Regions from separate parts of the Homo sapiens genome. Here region 1 is linked to region 2. The links come from fine-mapping of genetic effects on gene expression. A gene starts in region 2. The other region holds a variant in brackets. All regions are shown on one strand. Distances are from middle to middle. Region 1 overlaps MYO1H (myosin IH). Region 2 holds the start of KCTD10 (potassium channel tetramerization domain containing 10).

The links.
Region 1: its variant is fine-mapped to the expression of KCTD10 in whole blood (TOPMed, PIP above 0.99).

The regions. Positions count from the first base shown.
Region 1 is chr12:109,447,074-109,452,447 of GRCh38, forward strand. MYO1H (myosin IH) reads left to right here. Exons shown (of 32, transcript NM_001101421.4): 32 at 86-1,306. The coding sequence ends at 109. It overlaps KCTD10 (potassium channel tetramerization domain containing 10), which reads right to left. Exons shown (of 7, transcript NM_031954.5): 7 at 1,582-4,740. The coding sequence ends at 4,522. Among named protein-coding and RNA genes, the nearest start is that of KCTD10, 28 kb to the right of the region's middle. The variant C/T (reference allele first, on the strand shown) is at 2,647.
Region 2 is chr12:109,474,845-109,480,218 of GRCh38, forward strand. It overlaps KCTD10 (potassium channel tetramerization domain containing 10), which reads right to left and starts at 2,456. Exons shown (of 7, transcript NM_031954.5): 1 at 2,416-2,456. The coding sequence starts at 2,418. It overlaps UBE3B (ubiquitin protein ligase E3B), which reads left to right and starts at 2,790. Exons shown (of 28, transcript NM_130466.4): 1 at 2,790-3,265. RefSeq lists enhancers at 1,369-2,104, 2,613-2,702.

The DNA.
Region 1 (5,374 bases), 28 kb before region 2:
ATGGTGACAGTTGAGGTGATAACTGTTTCCTTTTGCGCAAAGGGAGCGGGGAAGGGCTGTAAACCGAAGTGTGACTCTCTCCCAGGTGTCAGTCCGGAGGAAGTCCTGATAGAGGATGACGTCTGACCTCTACCATCGCCATTTTTGCTCCAACTGAGGAAACTACAGGGGAAGTGGGGATTGGATCCAGTTAGCTACCTCTTCAAGGTACCAGGCCCGCAGCACTAACAGATCACATCTGAAGAAACTGAGGGGCGTTAGGCCAAAGCCTAATCCCAGCTCCTCAGCTGCCCCATGGCACCTTATTTAAAATGTCACCTTCTGGAAGCAGACCCCAGGTCACCCGAAGGCGCAATTCTAAACACCCTCGACAGGATCTATGTTCAGTGCGCAGTCCAACGTGTCATTAGAGGGTGGGCAAGATTCTCTACCTCTGTCAAGCTGCCCTGAGACATGATGAAATACTGTGTACAGCAAGTTCTCAAATAACATTTCGTTATATGTTGATAAGACATCTGATTCCTGGGCAGGGCCACTGTCTGGGTGGAGTCTGTATGTTCTCCCCATGTCTCTGGGTTTCTTCTGGGTGCTCTGGTTTCCTCCCACGTCCCCAAGGTGTGTGTGTCAGGTGCACTGGCGTGTCTATGCGGTCCCAGTCTGAGTGAGTGTGGGTGCGTGAGCCCCGTGAGAGGAGGACATCCTGTCCAGGGTGGGTCCCGCCTTCTGCCCTGAGCTGCTGGGATTGGGCTCTGGCCATCTGCAACCCTGAACGTGCAGGTTGGAGAACGAATGAATACAAATTTTATTGTAAAATAAAAATGTATATAAAGCATATGAGCACACAAATGGACAATAAATGCCACAGCGCAAAAGCGTGTAGCGAGCCTGCCACGCTTGTGACTGGGGAGGGGCTCCGTATAATCTCACCTTTGCAAGCGTTTATTTACTGATGTATGCGGCCACCACTGTGACCACCATCACTTACCGATTCACCAAAACTTAGGTAATATGGTCTTATTTTTGATTTAATTAAATATACGTGTAGCTCATGTATTTCACAGTTTAATATGAGAAGTGCTTTGGTCTTTATTTAGAAATTGGGTGATGTTTTTGTGCCCAGCAACATGCTGTAGGAATTTAACTCTTGTTTACATCCATTAGCCTCATGGTTTTGCTTCAAGTCTCAGCTTCCAAGAACCTATCGATGACTTACTGTGCATGGTCTGAGACTAAGTAAAGGAAATTTCCTAAAGCTGTGAAATTTGAATTTTGCTTTAAATAAATGGAACTCACATGTGTCAAGGGATTGGGTTTGGTGAACTGAAGCCCTCTGCCCCATAATAGCAAATCAGTGGTAACACCAGCTGATTCACTTTTTCATGAGCCAGGCAGCCTTTGACCCCAAGACTTCCTTTTGGTGTTTGAATTCAAACAAACACTACAGAAACATGACTGTCTTTTCCCTTCCACCTGGAGCGACTTTAAGGGGCTGAGGCAGAACGTGGGGGCCCTGCCTTTGTTGTAAACCGATTTTAGGGGCCTGGTTATGCCGGGCATGCCTGAAAAGAGCCAGAAAACAGAAGCATTTTATGACTTTTATTTTACATGTCGCCAACGTTTGTACAACATACAGTGGCTACATCTAAAACTTTGAGCATTTTTTTATGGCGCAAAGAGACAGAAAGGTTAATGACACACTTAACTGTTACAGTGACTTTGGGTAGGGCCCTAAAGACAGCACACGCTCCAGAGGGCGGGCTGAGTGTTGTTCACACTTGGGTCCTGAATCGCTGTTGTAAGGTACAGAGACACACTTTAACTGGGGAATGGGGTCCCCACACAGTGATCGCCCCACGGGAGGGTGACAGAATATGCCAGGAATTGTCTTGGACATGGGCCCCAGTCACCACAATCAGATGGCTTATTTGAAACAAACAAACAAAAAAAACCCTTGATTACGACACACCAAAGCTGTTCCAATTTGTAAAAAACTGTAGTTATTACATTGCAATGAAATCTCTTTACCAAATCTTGGGCCAGTGTTTTACCTGGATAGTGCTTACATTATAAATATTGGTTTTTGCCCTTAGTGCTAACATAAGAAAAATCAGTTCCTTGTATACTCAATAACAGAGCTTGGACCAGCCAATGCTGTCTATTCACTCATGGCTATAATGCAGCCGACAGAATTGTTCACCATGGAATGTTTTATAAACCTGTTCATATTCCAGAGAGACAAAGACTCAAAACTACAAGTGCAAAGTTGGGTAGAGAGAGCTGCCAGAAACACTAGCTCATTAGGCATAGAGGCCACAGCAAATCAAATTGTTCCACAAACTCATTCTTCACACAAACATTTAAAACACTATGCAGCCAGGTGTGGTGACTCACACCTGTAATCCCAGCACTTTGGGAGGCCAAGGTGGTCGGATCACAGGGTCAGGAGTTCAAGACCAGCCTGGCCAACATGGTGAAACCCCATCTCTACTAAAAATACAAAATTAGCTGGGCATGGGCTGATGGGTACCTGCAATCCCAGCTACTCGGGAGGCTGAGGCAGCAGAATCGCTTGAACCCAGGAGGCACAAGTTGTGGTAAGTGGAGATGGTGCCACTACACTCCAGCCTGGCCAATAGAGCAAGACTC[C/T]GCCTCAAAAAAAAATTTATACAATGGCTTTTCCATTTTCCTGGCCAACATTCACTTCGACTTTCTAAAAAAGCTCAACCCAAAAGAAAGACAGGGTTGGTGTTTAACACTTAAACAGTATAAAATATTTACGAAACATTTTGTAAGCCCTCTTTCCTTAGCACTTAATAAAATCCAAATGGCCTAATATAAAAGTTTCTCACACGACAGTTTAAAAAGCATCTGCCCAATACACGATTTTGACATTCAGTCATGATTGTTTTAAAGTTTTATTGTAGACTTTGCTGTTGGATACAAAATGAAGGCATACAACTGTCACAGGCAGGGCAGTAAGTACAAAGTCTAAGCTGTAAAAACCGTTTGAAAATATAAACTCGTTTTTGGAATACATGTGTCAAAGGCTGCCCATGTTAATACCTTTGGTATAAAACGGTAACGATTCCCTTGACAAACCCATCCATCACCTGACGCACATTCACATCTCCTGGTAACTACTCTACCTAGTCTAGTCTCAACCACCCCTGTCAGTCACGACTCACTCCTGTTCCTTTGCAGGTGCAGAGGAGCCTGGGAGGTAGGTCACTGAGAACACCCGTCCTACATAGGCGCTGCGCCCAGCCGGGCTCCAGCAGGGGCCGCCACCTGTGCCCCACAAGCACACGTCCCCACCCACAGTCACACATATCCCTTAAACAAACATGAACACAGACACAAACCAGACCCAAAGTTATCTATCTACCCGCACATCCTCAACCTGTTCACTGCTGGCCACTCTACACTGTGTAAAAATCAGAGGCAAAGACAAGGGGGTCTGTGTTTATAGCAGGGAAGCTCCCTGGGGCTGGTGGTGTGAGGGTGTCCCTGCCTGGATGCCAGGCTGGGAGGACAAAGGGTATGGGCCACACTGAATTTCTAAGCAAAATGACTTAGAAAGTTAGCCCAGCTTCATGGGGAAGGAGGCTGAAGAGGAGCGGGATCCCAGGGAGGGGTAGTTTATGAGCTATGCCTGTCACAGGGTCAGATGGCCTTCCTGGAGTGGAGTCGGGTCAATCAGGAGAACAACTGGACGGGGCTGGAGTTGGGGAAAGAACCAGAAACAGAGCTGGACACTTACTGCCATGGAAAGTTCTGCTCCTACGCAGACATATGGGGTCCCAGTGAGCACCAGGCCAAAGACCAGCCCAAGGTGGCAAAAGGCTTGATCCCTAAACAAAGCCTTGCACCCAAAGTTGCACTGGTCTCAACGATTTAGACGCTCATTCAGCCATATTTCCACTGCCACAAGCTGCAATTATCAACAAGCTCTAGGCCCAAAGCCACATGGCAGAAAGCACGTCTAGCAAAGCAGTGGGGATTGTGCCCGGGCCAAACACACAGGAACCAGGAGTGGACCTGCTGGGGCTGGAGGATTATGAAATAGGAAGCAGGGAGCTCAGATACCTCTGGTGGCCTCCAACTGCAGGACAACTCTCAGAATTGTCAAACTGAACCCTTAAGGGAGTGTCACCCAAAAAGCCCACATAGGAAGTCGACACCCACAAAAATAAATATTGCAAACAAAAGTTCTCACATACACTTCACACTCATTCATACTTTTCCTCTGAGAACCGAGAAAGCCTGGCTCCAAAGAGTCTCAGATTCTCATGAAAAGTAGAGATCTTAGACACAGCTTGTTCAACGACAGGGGTCATACGCCTGGGTCAAGACAATCAATTTGCCTTGTCAAGCAATACCAAAATAATCATCTGGCTTGTTACAAAAGTATCTCCAGGCTCCAAGGGAAGCAGAAGGGGCCCGGCAGCCTGCACAGGATCTGGGTGTAGCACGGCAGGGAGTGGGGGCGGTGAGAGGAGGGCGGCTCGGTCTCTTGCCTGCTCACTGGTGGAGGTGGGCCCGGTCATCAGGGCGCTTGATGTGGATCCTCCGCACGCGCTCGATCCGCTCCCGCTCCTCGTCCTCGTCCAGGTGGTGGGAGCGCCCCGCCGCCCCGCCTGTGGCCTCCAGGAGCGCATTGTCAGGTCCCCGGCCATCCTGGGCCTCATACAGCAAAATGTTCAGGGTCTCCTCATAAATCCGGGCTTCGGGAAACTCCACCTGTGTTCCCACAGTATACAGGGCAGGTAAGTTATGGCCCACCCCCTCTGCCAACACCTGGACTTTAAGCAGGGCCGCCAGGCTAAATCAGGCCCCTGGGATTCTGCTGAAGGCCACCAGTATTATTTTTAAATAAACTGATATTTTCAATGGCAACACTTACATGTGGTGCTAAATGCACAGAAAATCAAGGGGATGCAGAGAAACAGGTCTCCCTGCCCCTAGTTTCCCTTCTTAAAGGTACAGTTTCTCATCATTTTACCCTCTCAAAGATTCTGTGCATGTAAATATGTGTAATACACATATTTATTCACACACTTCAAAAAACACACAAGGTGGCCCACCACACAGAGTTGTACATGTCTTCCTCTTGTGCCTAACTTAACCTAGAGATCATTCTGTATCAAGGAATTATAAATACGACAATGCAATTAACCATACTTGGATGGCCATTTAGGTCAGTGCTAATATGCTTCTCCTAACAGAGCTGCAACCTTGCACAGAAGTCCTTCCACACCTTAAAGCAGTCTCTAAAGCAGTTTTTTGTACAGGGTCCAGCTGGGGACTCCCACGAAATGGGCATGAGCCCTTCTGCTGTTTGGCAAATCATTGTGTTTGCTCATTGCCCTTCAGG
Region 2 (5,374 bases):
AACGCACCAAATCCCTGACCCCACGTTTTCTATATGCTTCTCTGTAGAAGTCTTGTGTGCCTGTGTGTGTGTTAAGGAAAACGGGATAGTCTCGGCAAACCTGGATTGCAATCCAGTTCCACCATTTCCTTCGTGAAATTCAAGCAATTTAACCCAAGTCTCAGTTTTCTAACTTGTAAAATGGAGTGTTAAAGCCATAATCTTCAAAACCCTCAGAGAATGAATGTTAAAGCATTTGGCACCTAGTCCTTTGTGTAGTTTCCTTTGGGCGTCTCAAACATTGGGATCAGTGGTTCCCAACCCTGGCTACTAGAATCACCTGCGTGTGCTTAAAAAACATGATGCCAGGCCAGGCACAGTGGCTCACACCCATTATCCCAGCACTTTGGGAGGCTGAGGCGGGAGGATTGCTTGAGCCCAGGAATTCGAGACCAGCCTGAGCAACATAAGACCTAATCTCCACAAAAAAATTAAAAAAAAAAATTAACCGGTCATGGTGGCACACACCTGTAGTCCCAGCTACTCGGGAGACTGCGGTGGGAGGACTGCTTGAGGCAGGGAAGGTGAGGCTTTAGTGAGCCAAGATAATACCAGTGCACTCTCCAGCCTGGGCGACAGAGCAAGACCCTGTCTCCAAAAAACAAAAACAAACTCACACACACCTGTGCTTGCCTGGGCTACACCCCAGATCAATTAATCAGTATCTCAGAGATGCGGAGGGGTGGCTGATCAGTCACTAGTGTTTAAAAAGCTCTTTGGGGGATTCGGATGTGGGACCAGGGCTTACTGCCACCTAGCTAAGGTATTTAACCAGCTTTATCTAAGAGTTGCCAGGGATGTGAGGCAAAGCATCACCTCAGGGGATTCCTACAGCAAAGAAGTTTAAGAAACACTGTATTGAGGCTTGTATAAAACCTTCCCAAACTGAGGGCATTTCTACAACTCAGAAAAGTCTGCTGTTACATTTCAACTAAACTAAGTCACATAATTGCAGCATTTTACATCCAAAATTTGCTTATAAGACAGCTACCGCCAATTGCAACTTCCATCAAATGACATTCTCTCCCTGTGTTTAATACACAAACTCTTGGTCTATTTCTCTCAATGTTCTAGTGAGAAAGATGTTTATCATCAACCCCACTTTTTTGGGGAGAAAACTAGGAATCACACCTATAAGAGCCCTCTGACTCCCAACTCCTTTGCCCCTTTCATTACACAGTCCAAATCAAGAAATCATTAGTCTAATCCCTTGCAGGGCTTGTTAAAACCGATAGATGGGCTCCACCCCAAGAATGTCTGATTCAGTAGTCTCTGACAGGGCTTGAAATTTCAGCCATTTTGAATAAGTTACCAGGTGTTGCTGCTGGTGGGACCAGAGTTTGAGAACCACTGGTTTATGCTGCCTTCTTCCCATCCGCTGGTCCTTATTTTGCACAAAATGGAGCGGACTAGTCAACGTCAGCTACAGGATAACTGACTTTTCTTCAGCAGCGTCACTGGGACTGATTTTCCCTTAAGACTGCACTTTCCAGGGACGTGACAAACAAGCAAGCAAGTAGAAAGAAGATCTGGGCCAATCTTTGGTCATCTCTACCCAGGGACAATGAGCTACTCAGGGAACAGACCCTTGAGGATCCCAAGCAGACAAACCCCACAGCTGAGAGACAGATCTTGAAACATCCTCCGCTCCTTAGGCGTGGTCACCTCTGGCCTCAATGGAAGTTACAGATAGGTACCCAGGCGCCAGCTGAGGCACTGAACTCCGTGGCGCAGGTATCCTAACCTCAGGCCCCTGGCATCTCTCCCCAGGATTCCAAGCACTGAACGCACATCAGCCTGCTGGGCTCTCTCGATTTCTTTCCCTCACTGGGCCGTGTGTTCAGACGCACCTGGGAGCCCCTTCCCCACTTCCTGGAAACTCAGCGACTCCAGCCACAACCTCCAAAACGCCAAACGCTCCGCCCCAAGGAATCCTACCTCACCTTCTCATAACCTGCCCATTCATTCTCCTTCATAATCCTCCAAATCCTCATTTTCCACCCCCAAATGTCCGTTTTCAATTGATATCTCTTTGTTCTCCTCGCAATCACCAACTCCCATCTCCAACCAGCACTCAGGACTCACTTGGAGACACCCCTTCCTCACGCACACACGTATCTACTCCGCAAGCCCAAATGTGCTTCCCGGATTCCTAACCGCCAGGGAGCCTCCCTACCACCACCCCCGCCCCTAATTCTCCACCCAAAGCCCTTCCCCCACCCCGGGCCTTTCCCCTAACCAATCCCCCAAATGCCTCTCCACTATCGTGACTGCCCCTCATCACACCCCCTCCTCTCGGTCCCTTCTTATACTCTGCTGCTGCCCAGCTCCCTCGGCCGCCCTCAACCCCTAGTCCATGGGCACCGCCCTCCCTACCATGAAAAGTCGGAGGACGCAGGAGTCTCCAAACCCGGACTGAGAGAGGCAGGAAACACCCAGCTCACGCCAGCCGGGGGCGGAGGCGGGGCCGGAGCGATAACTTCCGCTGTCCGCACCCCACTTCCGCCCCGCAGAGGGCAACGTCTTAAGCCGTCCGTTGTGCGCCTAGGGGCCAGTTTTCTTTCCAGCCTCCCCGGCCGGAGTGGGTTCCAGCTTTTCTCGGCTGGGGAGGGCATTTATCCCACCTCCGCTATTTCAGCTGCCAGAGGGGAGGCAAGGTGTGGGGAAGTTTTCCTTCCCGGGCGAAGAAGCTCTGCGGAACTGTCATTTTCCGGAACTGGATGCTTGCTTCCTGGCGGGGTTCTGAAAGCGAACACCGCGGGGCAAGATGGCGGTAGTGCGTCGGCTGCTGCCCCGGGTCTGGCAGAACTCGGGTGTTTTGGGCTGAGACAGTGGCAGCTGCGGCCCCGACCCCAAGTGCGGGGACCTCCGGCGAATAAAGGTCGGCCTGCGGGTAGGCCGGTAGGGCCTGCGGTCCGGCCTGCGGGAGAACTGGGTCGTCAGTCCTCCGAGTGGTGGGGCTGGGGACTTTGAGGGAGTTGGCTCTAGGGCACAGTCCCTGCCTGGCCAGGTCGGAGGAACAAGTGCTGGGATCTGGCGTGTGTGCTCCAGGGGCTCTTTCCGCGGCCCTTTCCACCTCTTTTCACTTTGGGGACGGTAGGCCTTTATAAACGGACTAATGCTGGGTGATTTGTTCCTGTGGTTGTTGATGCCGAGGAAAGACTCTGGGCCCCAGGACTCACCTAAACTGGAGTTCGAATACTGTTCGCTCGCTGTGTGACCTTGGGTGAGTTCCCTCACCTCTCTGAGCCTCAGTTTCCTTCTGTGTAAATGGAGTAATTAGCAGGTTTCACAGAGGGTGTGAATACGTTTTAGTACCGTGCCTGACACCTAGTTCTGAATAAAGAAAAACTTGATCGTAATTTAACTCCAGCTTAGCCCCCACAGGCAATCTTGCACTCTCAACTTCTCTTTGCTTGGCCATTCTGTGAACGGGGGAGCCCTGGATCTTGTTTGTTTTACTTAGTGATAAATAACTGTTTTGGATATACATGGATTCAGATTCAAAAGCATCCACCTTAGATAGGCTGTAGCTTTCAATAAATAGTAGCTGTTAATATGAATAGTCTCTTTAAGTCGTGTTTCCTATTCTTTAAATAAAAATTAGATTATTGAGGCTGGCCACGGTGGCTCACGCCTGTAATCCTAGCACTTTGGGAGGCCGAGGCGGGCGGATCACCTGAGGTCAGAAGTTCAAGACCAGCGTGGCCAACATGGTGAAACCGCATCTCTACTAAAAATACAAAAATTAGCCGGGCGTGGTGGCGGGCGCCTTTAATCCCAGCGACTTGGGAGGCTGAAGCAGGAGAATCACTTGAACCTGGGAGGCGGAGGTTGCAGTGAGCAGAGTTCGCGCCGCTGCACTCCAGCCTGGGCAACAAAGTGAGACTCCGTCTCAAAAAAACAAAGATTATCGAGAACTGATAGAGCTGTTGAAAAGACAAGTTGGTTAAATAATCTGTGCAGTGTCTGATACACCGTCTGCCCAGAACAAGTGGTGGTGGTCATTAAACCTGGTGGCCCAGCTTTTCCTACTGCACAGGGACAATCCTCTTGGCTTAGTCAGCAGTTGGTATTTATGATGCTTCAGCTTTGGAAATATAGAGGTAAGACAAGAGTCTGAATCCTGCCTCTTAGTTATTACAGCCTTGACTCTGCCACATACTAATGGTCTAGACTGGAGTAGATGAGATCATGAATGATCTTCTCATAGGACTCCTCTCCTTATTAGATGAGATCACTTATAAAGGACTTGACACATAATGGGCACTCATTTACTTTTTTAAATGATCTTGGTTATCACCAACCTCTTATTTTCTAATCTTTCTACCTATATGATTCTTGTTTCCCTAACTAGATTGCAAGCTTCTTAAGGACAATACAATAAAGCTCACTTACATGCTACATGCTTTTAGATATCCTATATTAATATTTTCCCATTTAATCCTAATCACAATGTTGTGATGACTAAATTGAGGTACAAGAAGGATAAATGTTGCATTTAATCCTTTCAGCAACCCTAGGACATAGACACTATTATTACCCTCGATTTACACATAAGGAAACTGAGGCCTAGAGAGGATAAGTAACTTGGCCAAATGTCGGATAGAAGGAGTACTAAAAAGAACCAAGGCCCGCTTTCTCTGATGCAAGACTTTTTCTGCTGCGCACAGCCTTTTCTTTGGTTCTCCATGGCATTTAGCAAAATAAGTACTTAATAAACACTTGATTGTGTGTTTTATTAATTGACGAACTATAGTATACACTGTGCAGGTGGAGAAGGTATATAGGAAAGGATGAGAAAAACTGTAAAGTGTAGGCTATTATATGATATGAACAGAAATCAACCAATAACATTGCTGAAGGGATAATAATCTCAAGGAAGGGGATAAGAGTAATTTCTTATTCTGGGAGGGCCCCTGGGAGAAGTGAAAGTTTTAAGATCGTCTTACAGTGCTTAGGTACAGTTTGCATGCAACTTTGTTTTTCTTTTGGGAAGAGGCTCCCTCTTCCCCTTCTAATTCCATGGACCCTCTGCCATTGAGGCACTGTCTGCATGTCATGGAGGGAGCATATCATTGTGCTTGTGGCTTGGGCCCTGCTCTTTTGCAGTCCTGAGGAGCTTGAATCTGTTACTCACTCTAAACAACAGGGCCAGGAGTTCATAGCCCAAGGGACAGGACTGGTGAATCTTAGTGCATTTAAGATAGGAAAAAAGTTAATGGGTGAGAAATGTCAGACTGCCAGCATTATTTCCTACCCAGAGAACCTTAGTAACTGTCCAGGTGGGAGCCTCTGCTGAAGAGTTTTTTTTTTTTTTTAATCCTTGTGTCTA